Regions from separate parts of the Homo sapiens genome. Here region 2 is linked to region 1. A link means that fine-mapping ties the variant in region 1 to the expression of a gene that starts in the linked region. Tissue or cell type: Th17 cells. Region 1 holds a variant in brackets; the other region holds the start of a gene. All regions are shown on one strand. Distances are between the middles of the regions.

Evidence for each region. PIP is the estimated chance that this variant, and not a neighbour inherited with it, causes the effect.
Region 2: it holds the start of FREM3, and the variant in region 1 is fine-mapped to the expression of FREM3 in Th17 cells (Schmiedel 2018, PIP 0.95).

What each region holds. Positions count from the first base shown.
Region 1 is chr4:143,499,667-143,508,043 of GRCh38, reverse strand. No RefSeq gene overlaps it. Among named protein-coding and RNA genes, the nearest start is that of SMARCA5, 9.8 kb to the left of the region's middle. The variant T/ACT (reference allele first, on the strand shown) is at 4,910.
Region 2 is chr4:143,696,807-143,705,014 of GRCh38, reverse strand. It overlaps FREM3 (FRAS1 related extracellular matrix 3), which reads left to right and starts at 4,340. Exons shown (of 8, transcript NM_001168235.2): 1 at 4,340-8,208. The coding sequence starts at 4,340. RefSeq lists an enhancer at 4,316-4,973.

The sequences.
Region 1 (8,377 bases):
AGCACTGTAACTATTTAGGAAATTAAATTGATAAATTAAAAACTCCCAAAGAAGAAATCTTCAGGCACAGATGGTTTCAATGAAAAATTCTACCAAATATTTAAAGATGAATTAATACCAATTCCATACTATCTCCTGCAGATAATAGAAGAGGATGATACACTTTGTAATTCATTTTATGAAGGTGCTTTATCTCTAATACCAAATCAGACAGACACTACATAAGAAAGAAAATGACAGACCAGTATCACTGATGAATACAGACAAATCCTTAACAAAATATTATCAGATACAATTAAACAATGTGTAAAAAGAATTATGCACCCTGATCAAATGTGATTTATTCCAGATATTCAACACTGATTCAATATTTGAGTATTAGTCAATGTTGTCTGCCATATCAACAGGCTAGAGAAGAAAACTCACATGATTATATTGACTGATGAGGAAAAAGCATTTGACAAAATTCCAACACCCATTTAGAACAAAACTCTCAGAAAAAAAAAAAAAAAGAGAAAACAAATAGAGTGGAACTTCCTCCTCTTAATACAGAGCATCAGCAAAATACCTACAGCAAACATTATACTTAGTGAGATTGAATCCTCTCCCTCTAAGATCTGAAACAGGGAAGGTTTTCTGCTTATAACATTCATATTCAACACAGTGCTGAAAAGGAAAAATAGAGATCACTGAAATTCTCTTCAAACTGACATAAAACTTTTGTTGAAAATCAGAATAATGAACCAATTTGGCCAAATACAAATTTATATTTTTCATAATCTTTAACCATAAAGTGGAAGTAATGCTAGTTTATTTGATCAATAAATCAGTATAAATTTAGGAAAAACATTCCCAACTAAAATTATTATAGGATTTTATTATACTTAATATTGATAAATTAGATAAGACATAGATGATTTTATTAAAACAAAAATATTAAATTAGTCTTGTTTGCCAAAGATTCACCTACACTTTGTGAACATGGCTTCTCTACTTGTTAGTTTCAGTAAGAATACTTTTCTTTTAGATTTTAGCACGTTTAAATTATTAGAAGTTTATTATTTTCTGGGAATTTTTGGAATACTCAATCCATGTAAGTATCTTTATTAGTCAATCAGAACAGGCCCCTTTAAGAGTTTGTAATTGAACTTATTGATTACATCCTGAGATGGAAAACATTACGCACTCACAAAAGGAAAGTAAAATTTTTTCTGAATTATAGACACGTATATAGACAGAGATAGATAGCACTTAGAGTTTTAATTCTAAAATTTCAGCCATTGGTCAAGAGTAAATACAATATCAAAATAACTTTCCAGTTCAGATACTAAAGAGCTGTTCTTCCTGATAGACAGGAAATTCTTAATTGATTTAAGCCCTAAATAGATAAATTGACAAACCAAAAGACTAACAAATCCAACACTTTGTTGTCTCTCACTCAGCAGAGAATAGATCTTTATTAGCCACAAATTCTTCTACAGAAATCAAATGGTCAGATCATAAAAATCAAATTGCCAGTTATTGCTGCCACTAATGGGAAATAACTTATCAGCTGCAAAAGAACAAAAAAAACCCATAAAATTAGTAGAGAAGAAAACTAAAAATAGAAAAACATCATCAGCAAATTTATATTGCTGCTTTGGATTTACTTCTGGAAGCCAAGACATGCTGGGCTTAAACTACCCATGAGATGCACTTCTCTGGTGACAGTTTACCTGGTGATATGGTTTGGCTGTATCCCCACCCAAATCTGCTCTTGAATTGTAATCCCCATAATCCCTTCATGTCTAGGGAGAGACCTGGTGGGAGGTGACTGGCACATGGGGGCAGTTCCCCCATGCTGTTCTTGTGATAGCAAGTGAGTTCTCACAAGACCTGATGGTTTTTATAAGGGGCTCTTTCCCCTTCGCTCCTCTCTCTCTCACCTGCTGCCATGTAAGATGTGCCTTTTCCTGTTCCACCATGATTGTAAGTTTCATGAGGCCTCTCCAGCCATTCAGAACTGTGAGTCAATTAAACCTTTCCTTTATAAATTACCCAGTCTCCGGTATTTCTTTATAGCAGTGTGAAAACAGACTAATACACCTGGTCTTGTTAAGTGAATCCAGTGGACATGTTTGTGGAAAACTCCCAAAACTGTTAAAAGAAATTTTTTAAAAAAGTAAAAGCATGATTCTCATACATACATAAAAAAGAACACTTGTTAAAGATTTTATTTAACTCACTAATACGGAAGTTAGTGAGGTGTTAACAACAGTTTAAAGATTAAAAATGGAAAAACAAATTTATATTGGGTAAAGAAAAGTTGAAATTAATGTGGAAGTGGAGGTAAAATTATCTTCTTCCACACTAGGGGAAGGAAGTCAGTTTACCTTCTAATGCATAGGACAACACTTGCGTATGTACAGACGAGAATTATTTTGCACTTGTATAAGTTATTTACAATTTACAGAGTTGTAAAATAGCTCACATAGAGTCAGAAAACCCAAAAGTCTGTCTTCTGGAGTCAAGACAGTTCATGATTTTCTATTTAAGCCCATGTTTTCCCCTATGTGCTATTGTTTTAGTTTTATTGTAAATAATTCTCATTTGGACTTGTAAGTAACCTACTAGTTAATTTGTCTTTATTTTACACTAAGTAAAAGAACTGAAATTCAACCCATATGCAAGCTGGTAACCACTGCAGCATATATTTTTGTCATTCTGCATCTCTCCAGAATAGCTTTCTTTGCTTTCTCTTGGTTTCTCTGCTTCTAAGTAAGTGCATTGTGTTTAGTCTGTTCCAACTCCAACTGGCTGTGCATTATAGTACCTCATAGATAACAACCAGTGTTTCAATTACAAATCTCAAGGTCCAGAGACAGATCAGTTCAGTTTAGGTCAGGTGCCAATCCCAGATTCGTTAGGTATGAATAGGGATCAGGCCACTAGATATAAACATGGCTACCTAGGCCACCTCTTGAGCAGCAACCGAGAATGGAGGCTCTCTTAGAAAGAAGAGTAAATTAGTGCAAAGAATTGACTGGAATCTCTAGCATATGTTTATGGTCTATTTATGTTGCAGAAAAGTAAACTATCTTTGATAGAAAAATCTATTAATGTTCCCATTCAAGCATTATGATCCTTTTAATTTTCATTCATGGTTCAATTTTTATCCAAGTTGCCAATTCTAAGCCCAGTTGCACTTGAAATTGAGTTATTCAGTTAAAATGTATTTGAAGTATGTTTTTTTGAGAGCTGGAGATTAATTTTGGCCTTTTGAAAATTTGATTCTTAACACTTGTAGGTATATAATTATTATTCTATAATAACTCATTATGAAAGATGGTATGGACTTAGTATCTTATAAATTCAAAGAAACTTTTTTTAGTTTCTGATTCATCTCAAAGTACCTGGTGTTGAACTTAATCTTCTCTGAATGGTAAGTGCTCCAGAACGCATGTAAGGAGGAAGCCCTGTAACTCTGTCACTGGTCAGAAGGCCCACTGAGTTGTGTTCTGAAAAAGAGTGCACTTTTGGTTTTGCCCTATCAATATAGGCCACTTCAGGGTCTTCATTAGTGGAAAGAAGTGGAGATTTTGTAAGTCTCGCTTTCAGACACAAAAGAGAAGAATGTTAAGTCAATGGAATTTTCCACTTATTATTTTGTAAGAGAATCAGGAATTACAGAACAGAGACCTTGACAGTAAGAACTGTGTAAGACTGTAAGCTTTGCAGCTTGCTCTTGCTTGTCATTTTTGTCACAGCTTGCTGAACATTTCAAACCTAAATTCCTTATCACTGAATTTTCTTTTATTACAGTTCTTTCAGTAATAAGAATTGGTGAATCATGATATCTGGAAGTAAACTGAATTTTAATTCTAGATTTATAATTGAACTCACAATGAAGTTACTTATGGACCTGCAATTACCTTTATATAACGAGTATATCTTATGCACTTTGATTCTAAACCAGAACCTATGGTAGAGATTGCAATAATATAATTTAGCTATTTTGTGTTTTATTTACATATTGTGTTTGTGTCCCCACAGAAACAGACACCAAGACAGGGTCAAGCATGCGAGATATTTACTGGAGGGACTAACTGTGAAGAATAAAGGGGCCAGGCATAGTGGCTTATGCCTGAAATCCCAGAACTTTGGGAGGCCGAGGTGGGTGGATCACAAGGTCAGGAGATCGAGACCATCCTGGCTAACACAGTGAAACCCCATCTCTACTAAAAATACAAAAAATTAGCCAGGCGTGGTGGCGGGTGACTGTAGTCCCAGCTACTCGGGAGGCTGAGGCAGGAGAATGGCATGAACCCAGGAGGCAGAGCTTGTAATGAGCCAAGATCGCACCACTGCACTCCAGCCTGGGCAATAGAGCGAGACTCCATCTCAAAAAAAAAAAAAAAAATACATGAATAAAAATAAAGGGAGGAAGCATGAGTAAGGAGGGAGTGACTTGAGACAGAGAGGCAGAACTAACATTTGTAAAGACAAGGGAAGGATGGAGGATTATGAAAGAAGAATTTCAGTTTGTAGCAGAGCTCTGAGAAAGTTTTGGCTGGGCTGATGGGGCATCTTTAAGCCAAAGTTGCTCATTAGATGAGTAGTATATTCCATGAGAGTGTTCCTGCACTAGTACCACTGCCTGCTGGGAGTAGCCTGAGAAAAGTTGGCCCTAAGCACAAATATGGAGTAAGTGGGGAGTAGGGATGAGAGGATGGAGGGATGGGGAGGTGGATCCAGAGGGGCTACAGCTGGGGCTGCCATAGTAGATCTGAGTGTCATAGCTTCATGGTCACCACAAGAATATATACACATATTATAGAAAGACAAAGAAGTATACTTTCAACAAATTCATCATCTTTTAAATTTAACAAATTTCAGCTAATTTTACACACACACACACACACACACACAC[T/ACT]ATACAATCTTCAGGGTGAAAAATAAAACATATATTTATCATTGAACCCTGATTTTGGACTCACAGAGATCCCAGGTACTCAGATACAATTTAGATGAAAGAAGATTTGTATTTTGATGATGATAGTGATGATAATGATAATCATAACTAAAGTTTATTAGTTGCATGTAGTGTTTCAAGTTTTTTATGTTTTGACTCATTGGCCCTCACATTAGCCCTTGTGAAGGGGGTAATATTTGTCTCCATTTTGCAGAGAAACAGACATAGAAGATAGAGTGGCTTACATAGTATTATACAGTCAATGTGTGATATGGCAGATTAATTAGACTAAATTGCATAAAAGTAAAAGATGAAACCTGTAGCTCAAGGATGGTAGCTTATTGAGATCGTGGAAATAAATGAAGGTCACCCAAACAAGAACAAACAGGTGCTATTTATTCAGAACTTGTTATATTGAGGGACTTAGCTATCGTCACTTGCTCTTGGCAAAGTAGGACAGTGGTAGAGTGGGAACTGGAAAAGCTTTATAGTATTGTGCTCTGAGTAGAGCTCATTCACATAGAGGAACTGGAGGCAGGCTAAATAAAAATAAGACATCTAGGATGACTGGTTTGGGAAGTATATTTGGCTTTCTCTGGTTGATCCTGAATTGAAAGTTGTCCTGATGCAAAAAATAGGGAAGTAAGCAGTCATTGACCGAGTTGTGACCATACTGAGCTGTTGCTGCAGAGGTTGTGGTATAGCTCCTGCTGTGGTTTGAATGTCTGTGTCTCCTCCAAATTCATATATTGAAATTCTAACTCTCAAGTTAATGGTTTTAGGAGGTAGGGCCATTTGGGAGGTGATTAGGTCATAACACCTCCACAGAATGGGATTAGTTTTCTGATAAAATAGGCCCAAGGGAGCTCGTTTGTCTTTTCTACCATGTGAGGACACAGTGAGAAGGCTCCATTTGTGAACCAGGAAGCAGGCCGTCACCAGGCACTAAATCTGCCAGCACCTGGATCTTGGTTTTCCCAGTCATCAACACTATGATAAATAAATTTCTAGTTTTCTTTTTTTCAGTCTACACAGTTGATGGTATTTTGTTATAGCAGCCCAAAGGGACTAAGATAGTTTCTCCAACTAGTTGCTACAGACATTGTGTGTGACAATTCTGTTGTCGTATAGAGTCAGTTTGTATATTCAGTCCCTCAAGGGGAAAATCACCCAACTTATCTTAATAATTCTGCTGACAATAGTTTGCGTCTATTTAATAGTAATATCAATAAAATGCTATTTAGGTTATCTTAAATGCCAATAAAATTTAACATATTAATGTTTAATTTTTAATAAAACATTTAATAAAAATGTTTAATAAAAAGTATTAAACAATTAAATATATAAATTATATATACACATATATGTGTATATGCTGTACCATTTGTACATATGTATATATGTACAATATATATACAATGTATATACACACATATGTATACATACTATATATGTGTGTATGTATATGTAGTGTATGTAAATACAACAGTGAAGAAGCCTAGTTCCATGAAAACTCAAAAGGTTAGTGCCTCTGCTAGTTCCTATATTAAATTTTACCTGAGAAAGTGTTTTACAATGTGTGATTATGACCAACTGAAAGCTTCAACAACCATTCTCCAGTACTCTCTCAGTTAACTGCGCATCTGGCCATCCTGAATAAAGTCTTCATTTCTCATCCTCGTGCTGCCAGGGGTGGCCATGTATATTAGTCTGTTCTCACACTGCTATAAAGAAATATCTGAGACTGGGTAATTTATAAAGGAAAGCAGTTTAATTGACTCACAGTTCCACATGGCTGGGGAGGCCACAGGAAACTTACAATCATAGTGGAAGGTGAAGAGGAAGCAAGGACCTTCTTCACATGGTGGCAGGAGAGAGAAGTGTGAGTAGTGAAGAGGGAAGAGCCCCTTATAAAACTATCAGATCTTGTGAGAACTCACTCACTATCATGAGAACAGCATGGGAAAGCTAACCCCAAGATCCAGTCACCTCCTACCGGGTTCCTCCCTTGACACATGTGGATTATGGGGATTACAAGTCAATATGAGATTTGGGTGGGGACACAGAGCCAAACCATATCACCATGTGAGTGAAGGATGAGTGCAATTCTTCATGCTTCACTCAGATAAGAAAGAACTTCTATCTGTGTAAGCCACTGCTATTTTGAGCCCCTACTGCATATCACTAAACTACATTCAATAATACCAAGTTTAATTTTTATCCTTTGAATAATGCTAGCCTTTGAGACTGTGATTTTCAAAACTAACTGAGAAAACACTATTTAGAAACAGAGACTCAAAAATGTTTTTATACATACAGCAGGTTCCCTTTAATGGAAAACAAAAGGACATCATTGACACATAAAATTCCTACTTCTCAAGCATCCAACAATTTTCTTTTTAAAATTAATGCTTTATAGATAAATGTGTCTATGTCACCTGTCATAATGGCAAATGTTTGTTTAAAATATATGTAATGTATCATAATTAAAAGGTTCATCAATTCCAAAAGTGACCCGCTGTTTTTGTATATACTGAAATCAAATTGTATTAACACTATATGAAAATATTAAATAATTTTCTATTTCATATATAATTTTAAGTAAAGATTACTTTACTGAGCTAAGTAGGAGAAGCTAAGCACATGGCTGGAAATCACCAATTTTTTAAGTCTTGGAGGAAAAAAAATAGTATAATGGCTTATATTAGCTTGTGAGCTTGTCCTGTGTCTGTGGCTTCTGTGGACTTAGAGATGGGGAAGATTGAGTAGAGGGTAGGTGGAATTTTGAGACTGTCCCTTCCTCTTCTTCAGTAAACGATGGAAAGGTGTTAAATGACCAGTATTAAAGAGAGGAAAAACCATTTTTCAGTTCATTAACAAGGTATTATTACAGATTGGAGCTCTGCTACCAGAAACCTGAAAGAGGAATGAGGCTCTGGAGCAAGCTTGTGCCTCCGTACTATGGATTGGAGCTCCAAGCATGCTGTAGGGTTCCTTGCCCAGCTTCATGCCACATAATTAGAAAGAATATGAAGTAAAAGCTGTGTTTCCAGGTTTTGGTGAGAGAAAAATTCAAGCACCAGAATGAGAAGGGTAAAAATACAGGCTCAGAAGAGAAATTGCTGAAAACCAAGCACATTCACAAGGGCTTATCAACTCTGTTCCAATGCAGAGTGAAGAGGGGACCCAGGAACCTGATTGCACCCTGGGAAATGTGAAGCTCTTTGTGAAATGACTATTAAAATGGCCTGAAGAGGTTGGGTGTGGTGGCTCAAGCCTGTAATCCCAGGACTTTGACAGGCCGAGGAGAGTGGATCCCTTGAGTCCAGGAGTTCTAGACTAGCCTGCGCAACATAGGGAGATCCCCATCTCTACAACAACAACAACAAAAATTAAAAATTAACTGGGCATGGTGGCGTGCACCTTTAG
Region 2 (8,208 bases), 200 kb before region 1:
CCAGGCTGGAGTGCAGTGGCACAATCTCGGCTCACTGCAAGCTCCGCCTCCGGGGTTCACGCCATTCTCCTGCCTCAGCCTCCCAAGTAGCTGGGACTACAGGCGCCCGCCACCACGCCCGGCTAATTTTTGTATTTTTAGTAGAGACGGGGTTTCACCATTTTAGCCAGGATGGTCTCGATCTCCTGACCTCGTGATCCACCTGCCTCAGCCTCTCAAAGTGCTGGGATTACAGGCATGAGCCACCGTGCCCAGCCTGTACCTTGACTTTCAACCACCTTTCTGAAGGCAAGCGAAATAGGATGACTAGTAGTTTGTTGGGAATGTTTTAAAAGTTAATGAATGCAGCATCACTTGTTGACATATGCTAACTGGTTATTCCCATTGGGTATGATGATCTTCTCCTTGCTCCACTGTATGGAGCCTGCCTTTACCAACATCCTATCATGTGTAGAGGCACAGAGAATAATGGTGCCCATCCCGGAGGGCATGGAGAACCTAGCCCAGATTTATGCAAAGAAAGACATGGCCCTGAGATGTAGTTATTGAGGTGGAGCTGCAGCTACTGCATTCTTCAGGTTGGGAGAGACTCACAGAAAATGCAGGCGCCCCACGGAGTCCATATGTAATGGAAGCAAAGGTGGCTTGGCCACTGACAGGCTGTGTGACTTAGTTTAGTTAACTTCTCTTGAAGCTGCAGTCCCCACAGGTTACAAATGGTTTGGATGCCATTTTAATGTTTTGTTTTCCATGTTTTGTTTTGTTTTGTTTTACTTGTAGTCTCCCTGGAGCATGTTCTTCTAAGAGCCCACTGGTGACCCAATTAGAGCAAAGCCTCTAGGCTTTACTGAAGTACATCAATGCTAAACATTTGCAGGCAACCTGATTCAAGGCATTCATGGTGTGACATGTGGGGTTTAAGATCTTTTGTTTCTCCAGCTGGTAGAGAAAAAATAACTTCCACAAAGAAAAGGTTAGATAGCTGGTCTTGGCTCCATTAGTTTGGGGGAATGCGGACTGCTGTTCTAGCGCTTCCTGGTTCATGAGGTGAGAACTTTTCCTGCTTGTTCCCAGTAACTTCTGAAAGCTGGATGTGACTTTTCTAAAAATGGACTCTCTCTCTGCCAAAGCACACTCAGGATATTTGGACACATAGTCTCCCTTCTATGACCTATTTAATGCCATTTATTCTATGTACCTCAGGGCAGAGCCAGTTATTTATGAAGTGTAGCATGACGGAAAGTTGTCCTGAAGTGATGGGGGTATTAAGAAGTCCTTCCCTACAGGACATACTTTTAGTTATAGTGGAATTAACTCGCAAGGTAAAATTTTTCTACTTAACTCCTGTAAGTCTCAGTTTCTTATCTATAATTATAATAATTACTTACATTTATTGAGTGCTTACTGTGTGCCAGGCACTATTCAAAGCATTTTATGTGTAGTAATCTGTTTAATTCTTATGATAGCTGTATGAAGTGGGATCTGTTACTATATATAAATTAGAAATATGACACATAACCAGCTTTCAGGGGTTTTTCACAATGATCCCATAATGTAGGGCTTATGAAAACCTTGGGCATCCTTCCCACTTAATGACAGACTTGATGCAGCTCAGGTTTAAAGAATAAATTTGGATTAATGAGAGAATGAAGTACAATATGGATAGTGAAATTACCCTGTGAAAAGAAAATTTGGGTAATATAAATATTTGGCTAGAAATCAAATTTGAATTTTCTAAACAGAGCTTCCACTGACCTCTAATGAACTGGCATATTCTGAGGAAAGACGAAAGAAGTCATCCTACGCTTGCACTGGTTTCTCCTGCCTGACACCTAAACTGCAAAGTATGTCGATCACTACTTCTGATTCCCTTTCATTTTTCTATTTATTCATTCATTCAATCAATCAATCAATCAACAAATACTTATTACATACCTGCTATGTGCCAGTCCTTGGCATAAGCACTAAGTATCAATGGTGAACATTACATACTCCCTGCTCTCCTGTAGCTTAAAGCCAAACAGGGAAGACAGACACTAATCGACCTGTACATGAATAGATAACTACAGAGATTTTGCAACATGGTTTGAAGAGCATTTGAAAAATGCTTCCTGAAGAAATGAGACTTAGACTGGGAGGTAGAAAAGAAACCAGAAAGGTGTGGCAACATTAACAATATGAGAGATAGTTATAGGAGTTTGCCAGATGGAAGTTACTAATGACCTTAGTGAAAGTTTTTTTGGTGTGTCTAAGGTGGAAACCAGACTGGGAGTGCCCTAAAGAGACAATGAGTGAGAGGTGAAGAAATGGAGACAGTAATGAAATAAAAAACTCTTTTAAGACATTTAATGGTGAAAAAGAGGTGAAGGGAATATATGCTGAAGAGGGAGGGTCAGAGGACAAAAATATAAACATAGTAGTTCAGCTTTCTGTTATCTCAGCTGCCCACATCCATCTCTACTTCCAGTGAAAATAGCATAGAAAAAAAGGTACTTGTCCCAAAGTGAGTGAGTGTGCTTGAAAAAGAACCAAAACTGCACTCCTATAGGAATATTCATTTGGTAACTTTAATATATGCAAACTAATAAAAGTTCTACCATTAAAAACCCATCCTTTGGACAAGGCAGCAGCTTTATAAAATATAATATAATGACTCATTTACAATGAAACTTTACCTGTGTTTCAATTAGAAATATATTTTTAAATAATATTTTTCCAGATACACTGAACTAATACTGTATCATTAGGCTAAACACATATTGATTCAAACTTATTATCTCAAAATTCTGTTATATGAACAAATCTGTGTGCTAATGGGGCACACTAACATTCAACTAAAGTGAATTGTATAGACCCATAGCATTTCACTGGATGATTAAATTAAATGTTTAGAGAGAAAATTAAATCTTTCAAGTCACTAGCAGATTATTCTTGCCCTGAAAATCAGCTGATGCCGTTGCTGCTGTGAATAAAACAGGCATTTGTAACACGGTAAAAAACTAAAAGAATAACATGGGGATAACATTTAAAGATTTCTATTCCCCCTTGAAGCCATTTCTATCAATATAGTTTGTAGACATCTATTTTTACTGTCATCAAAAAGTCTCTCACATTCACATTAATTTTATAAGGAAGCACGTTACTATTACTACTACTTTATTTATAGAAAAAGATTACTCTGCACTGTAACTAAATTGGCTATTTTAAAACTTAAAAAATTAATAGGATTCTGTTAAGTACCTAACACTACATCCATAGTCACCTTCATCTGAAAGCCATGAAGAGACTGATTCCAGGTGTTAAATGATTGAGCCACAGAAATTGATCCAAGTATTCTGCTACTGTTTCCTTTGACATCCTCCCCTCTGGCTACTGTCTACGAAGAAAGTAATTAGAAAACAGCATGTCTAATAAACTAACAGGCAAGTCATTGTTGATCAGATATGGAAACCACATTCTAAGAAAACGAAAGGAAGCCGAGCCGCACACCTGATTTTGTTATGTGAGACCCAATGACAAAAAAAAAAAAAAAAAAAAAAACCCAGATTACAAGCTGTTCAAGTAAGTTTGGGTGCTGATTTTCTTTTTCAAAACCTGAGCAGAAGAAAAACGTCAGGGTTGTTTGGAAGCACCGAATTACAAGATCCTGAATAAGCTGCTTCATCAGACAGACAGCTAGAAAATCCTATTTGCAAAATAGCTCCCACCAGCTTCTTTTATGTCCGAAGTGAGACTCAGTTTTTGGCTAGAAGATACACTCCTGTCAGCGGTAAGGAAGAGGAATGGTGTCTCTCCCCCTTTTCAGAAACACCAATCCCTGGATGAATGGACAACAGGAGCTCAATCTCACAGACGCAGGACTGACCCGAGTACAGTCACCGTCTCTCTCCCAACCCTGAGGGACAATCCCTTTGTGGCACCTGGGGAAGAGAGTATCCAGACAGCTGGTCGGAGTCTGGCAGCGCGGGCAGCAGTGCGGCGGCCACGGCTCCCGGCGAGAAGGTGTGTAAGGTAGGCTGGGTGAAGCGCCCAGGAGCGGAGGGGACAGCGCTGCACCCTCGCTAAGTCTCGCCGCGCTGGGCGCGTATCTGGGGTCCCCAGAAGCCAGCAGAGAGAGACTTGCGACCGGGGCTGAGCAGGAAGTGGGCAGAGCCCCTTCCCCCGCTGCCGTTACCTGCAGCAGCCGAAGCGCAGCCGCTGGCTCTTGCTGGATCCGCAAGTCGGCTACCGACTGGACAGCAGCTACTGCTTCCACTGCCTGCACCTGCCGCTCAGCAGATCCCTCTTTGCACAGGGCACCCCACCCCGGGAATCCCAACGCCAGGAGCCATCCGTGGCCATGGCGGGGGCTTCTCGGCACCCGACTGGGACGCCCCGGCAGCTCCTTGTGGCGCTCGCCTGCCTGCTCTTGAGTCGCCCCGCGCTGCAGGGACGGGCATCCTCACTTGGGACCGAGCCCGACCCGGCGCTTTACCTGCCCGCCCGGGGTGCGCTTGACGGCACTCGCCCCGACGGCCCCAGCGTGCTGATTGCCAACCCTGGACTCCGGGTGCCCCTGGGTCGTTCCCTTTGGCTCGACCCGCTCCGGGATCTGGTGATTGGAGTGCAGCCGGGGGACCGGTGCGAAGTCACGGTACTGGACGCCCTGCCGCGGCTCAAGGGCGCGCTCTCCCCGCGCCGCTTCCCCTGCACCTTCGGGCCCCGCCAAGTCCAGTACACTCACTTCGGCTCCCACAGCCCCGGACGCGCCCGGGTGCTGCTGCAGCTGCGCTACGACGCCCCGACTCACACTCTGGTGCTGCCCTTCACGCTGGCGGTGGACTTGGTCTTCTCCCAGCTGGAGCTGGTGACGCGTAACAGGCCTTTGGTAGTGGAGAAGCTGCGAAGCTGGAGCCGCGCCATAGACAGGAGAGTGCTGGACTTCGCCTCCCTGAAGTCTGGAGCCACGGCCACCCGCAGGTGCCGGCTTACCCCACTTCCTCACGAGGACGGCCCCCTGCCCAAGTACGGGCGCTTGGTGGACGCGGTGGGGGCCCCTCTCCCCAGGGGCAAGGGCGTAGACTGTGAGGCTTTCCTCCGTGCTGGGGTGCGCTATCAGCACACAGCCACCTCCTCGCCCAACCGTGACTACGTGCCCATGATGGTGGAGCTGCTGGGGCCTGAGGGCCAAGACGCTGGGTCCGCGGGTGTGCTGGTCCGCGAGCACTTCCAGCTGCTCGTGAGGATCCGCGGCGGAGCCGAGAACACACCGCCCAGGCCCAGCTTCATGGCCACGATGATGATGGAGGTGGATCCACTGGTGCTGACAGCCCTGACGCCTGACGCACTGGCCGCGGAGGACGTCGAGTCAGACCCTGGTGACCTGGTGTTCAACATTCTGAACGCCCCCACTCACCCACCAGGGCACCCGGGGCAACAGGGCTACGTGGTCAGCACCGACGACCCTCTAGGGCTTCCAGTCTCCTTCTTCACCCAGCAGGAGCTGAGGGAGCTGAAGATTGCCTATCAGCCCCCTGCAGAGAACTCCCATGGGGAGCGCCTCTTTCAGCTGGAGCTGGAGGTGGTGGACGGAGACGGCGCCGCCTCAGACCCCTTTGCCTTCATGGTGACAGTGAAATCCATGAATACTCTGGTCCCAGTGGCTAGCCATAACAGGGGACTTGTGCTTTTTGAAGGTCAGTCAAGGCCCTTGTCCAGCACCCACAGCATTCCTATCAGTGATAAAGATAACCTGGAAGAGGTGAAAATGGCTGCAGTCAGGGGCTTGAGACATGGGCAGCTGGTGGTGTTTGGGGCACCTGCTGGGTGCAAGTATTTCACACCAGCGGACCTGGCAGCAGGGCGAGTGGTGTATCAGCATGATGGCAGCAACACCTACAGTGACAATATCATCTTCCGGATGGAGGACGGGCACCACCAAGTGGACTTCCTCTTTCCCCTCACCATCCTACCTGTGGATGATGAACCACCAATGGTCAATACTAACACAGGACTCTCACTCACTGAAGGGCAGGTGGTCCAGATCTCTCCCTTTGTACTGAGTGCTACTGATATTGACTCTGAGGACTCAACCATCCACTTTGTGCTGGAGAACCAGCCCCTAAAAGGAAATGAGGAAGAGCCTCAGTGGGAGTTGGCCCCTGGTTCCTCCCACTCAGGCCACTACCTGGGGGACCTGTTGCTGCAGCAGGCTGAACTACCTCTCTCAACTGAAGATGAAGACTGGCACTACATGGAAAAGGAAGGGCTTTATGAGAAAGTGGTGACTGAGTGGCTACAGAGAGACATAATGGAAGGGAGACTCTTCTACCGCCATCTTGGACCACACAGCCCTCAATCTGTAATGGTCCAGCTGGCTTTCCATGTGCAGGATGACCATGACCCACCCAATCTCTCCAAACAGCACATTTTCACCATCAAGGTCCAACCAGTGGATATACTGAGTCCACAGCTGTATCCAGGAACTACACTAGAAATGACTGTACAAGAATACCAACTCACTCACTTCCAGAAGAATTTCCTCCGATACATTGACCAGGACTCTGATGACCAGAACCTATGGTACACCCTACTGACACTCCCGACTGACACAGATGGCAACCACCAAGTCCGGGCTGGAGAAATTGTGCTCACTGATTCACCAGACACACTCATCATGCACTTTACCCAAGCCCAGGTAAATCAGCATAAAGTTGCCTACCAGCCTCCACAGAAATTGGGTATTGCACCACGGGTTGTGCAGTTTACTTACCAGGTGGAAGATGCTGCAGGCAATAGCGTGCCAGGCACATTCACATTATTCCTGCAACCTGTGGACAACCAGCCCCCAGAAGTCACCAACAGAGGCTTTGCTATCTTAGAGGGAGGCAGCTTTAACCTCAGCAGTAATGAGCTGCATGTTACAGACCCAGACACAGACATTGACCAAATTGTCTTCATATTAGTCCGGGGTCCCCAACATGGACACTTGCAGTACTTTAAAAGATGTATGGTCCCAGGGGAATCTTTCATGCAAGCTGATGTTATTAACGGGAGTGTCTCTTACCAGCATGGCAGAGACCAGACGACTACCAGTGACACTTTCCATCTGGAAGTAAGTGATGGGGTGCACCATATACCCATCACCATCCCAATTTCTGTGCATCCCAATGTGGCTAACAGAAGTCCTAGGATCTCTCTCAGAAGTAGTTCATTATTGGATGTTTCTATAGACGTACTAGAGAATAAAGCCACTGAAATTACCATGGGTGTCATCCATGGCAAAAGGAAGGATGTAGGTGACTTGATGCTGTCTTTCATTGTAAAGGACAGCCCCAAACTGGGCACTATTCTGGTAAATGGTTTGCCCACAGAACGATTCACCCAAGAGGATCTCATCAATGGGAGAGTAGCCTATGCCCACACTGCAGGTGAAGTTGGTTTTCAAAAGCAGCACGATGCCTTCAGCCTCATCCTCTCCAAAGATTCTTACCAATGGGTAGTGGGGAATAGCATAATAGAGAAAGTACAGGTACAAGTAACTGTGCTGCCTGTGGACAATGTGGGACCCAAGGTCTTCGTCGGGGAGTCCTTCATTGTCTATGAAGGTGAGAAGAACTCCTTGACCTTACAACATCTCCATGTTGAAGATGTGGACACTCATCAAGATGAACTCCTCTGCACAGTGACTAGTCAGCCAGCCTCTGGCTACCTGGAAAAGATTGCATCAGCTCCTGGTTCAAAAATGTCCCAGTCTGGTAGCCCTATCAGTGCTTTCTCCCTCAGAGATATCCAAGTGAGGCATATCAATTATGTACAGAGTATTCACAAGGGAGTAGAGCCACAAGAGGACCAATTCACCTTTTATTGCTCTGATGGCATCAACTTCTCCCCAAATGTCTTCTTCCCTATAATCATCCTACCCACCAATGATGAGCAGCCTAAACTTTTTGCCCATGAGTTTAAGGTACTAGAGGGGATGAGCCTGGTCATAGACACCCAGCTGCTTAATGGAGCAGATGCTGACCTGCCACCAAATGAGCTCCACTTTCAACTCACAGCCCTCCCTCGGCATGGACGAATCATACAGCAGCTGGCTACAGGCAGCCAGCCCATCCACAGCTTCACCCTCAAGGAGATCCAGGAGGCCTCCACCATTGTGTATGAGCATGATGACTCAGAGACAAAAGAGGACAGTTTTGAGGTCTGGCTGAGTGACGGCAAGCACAC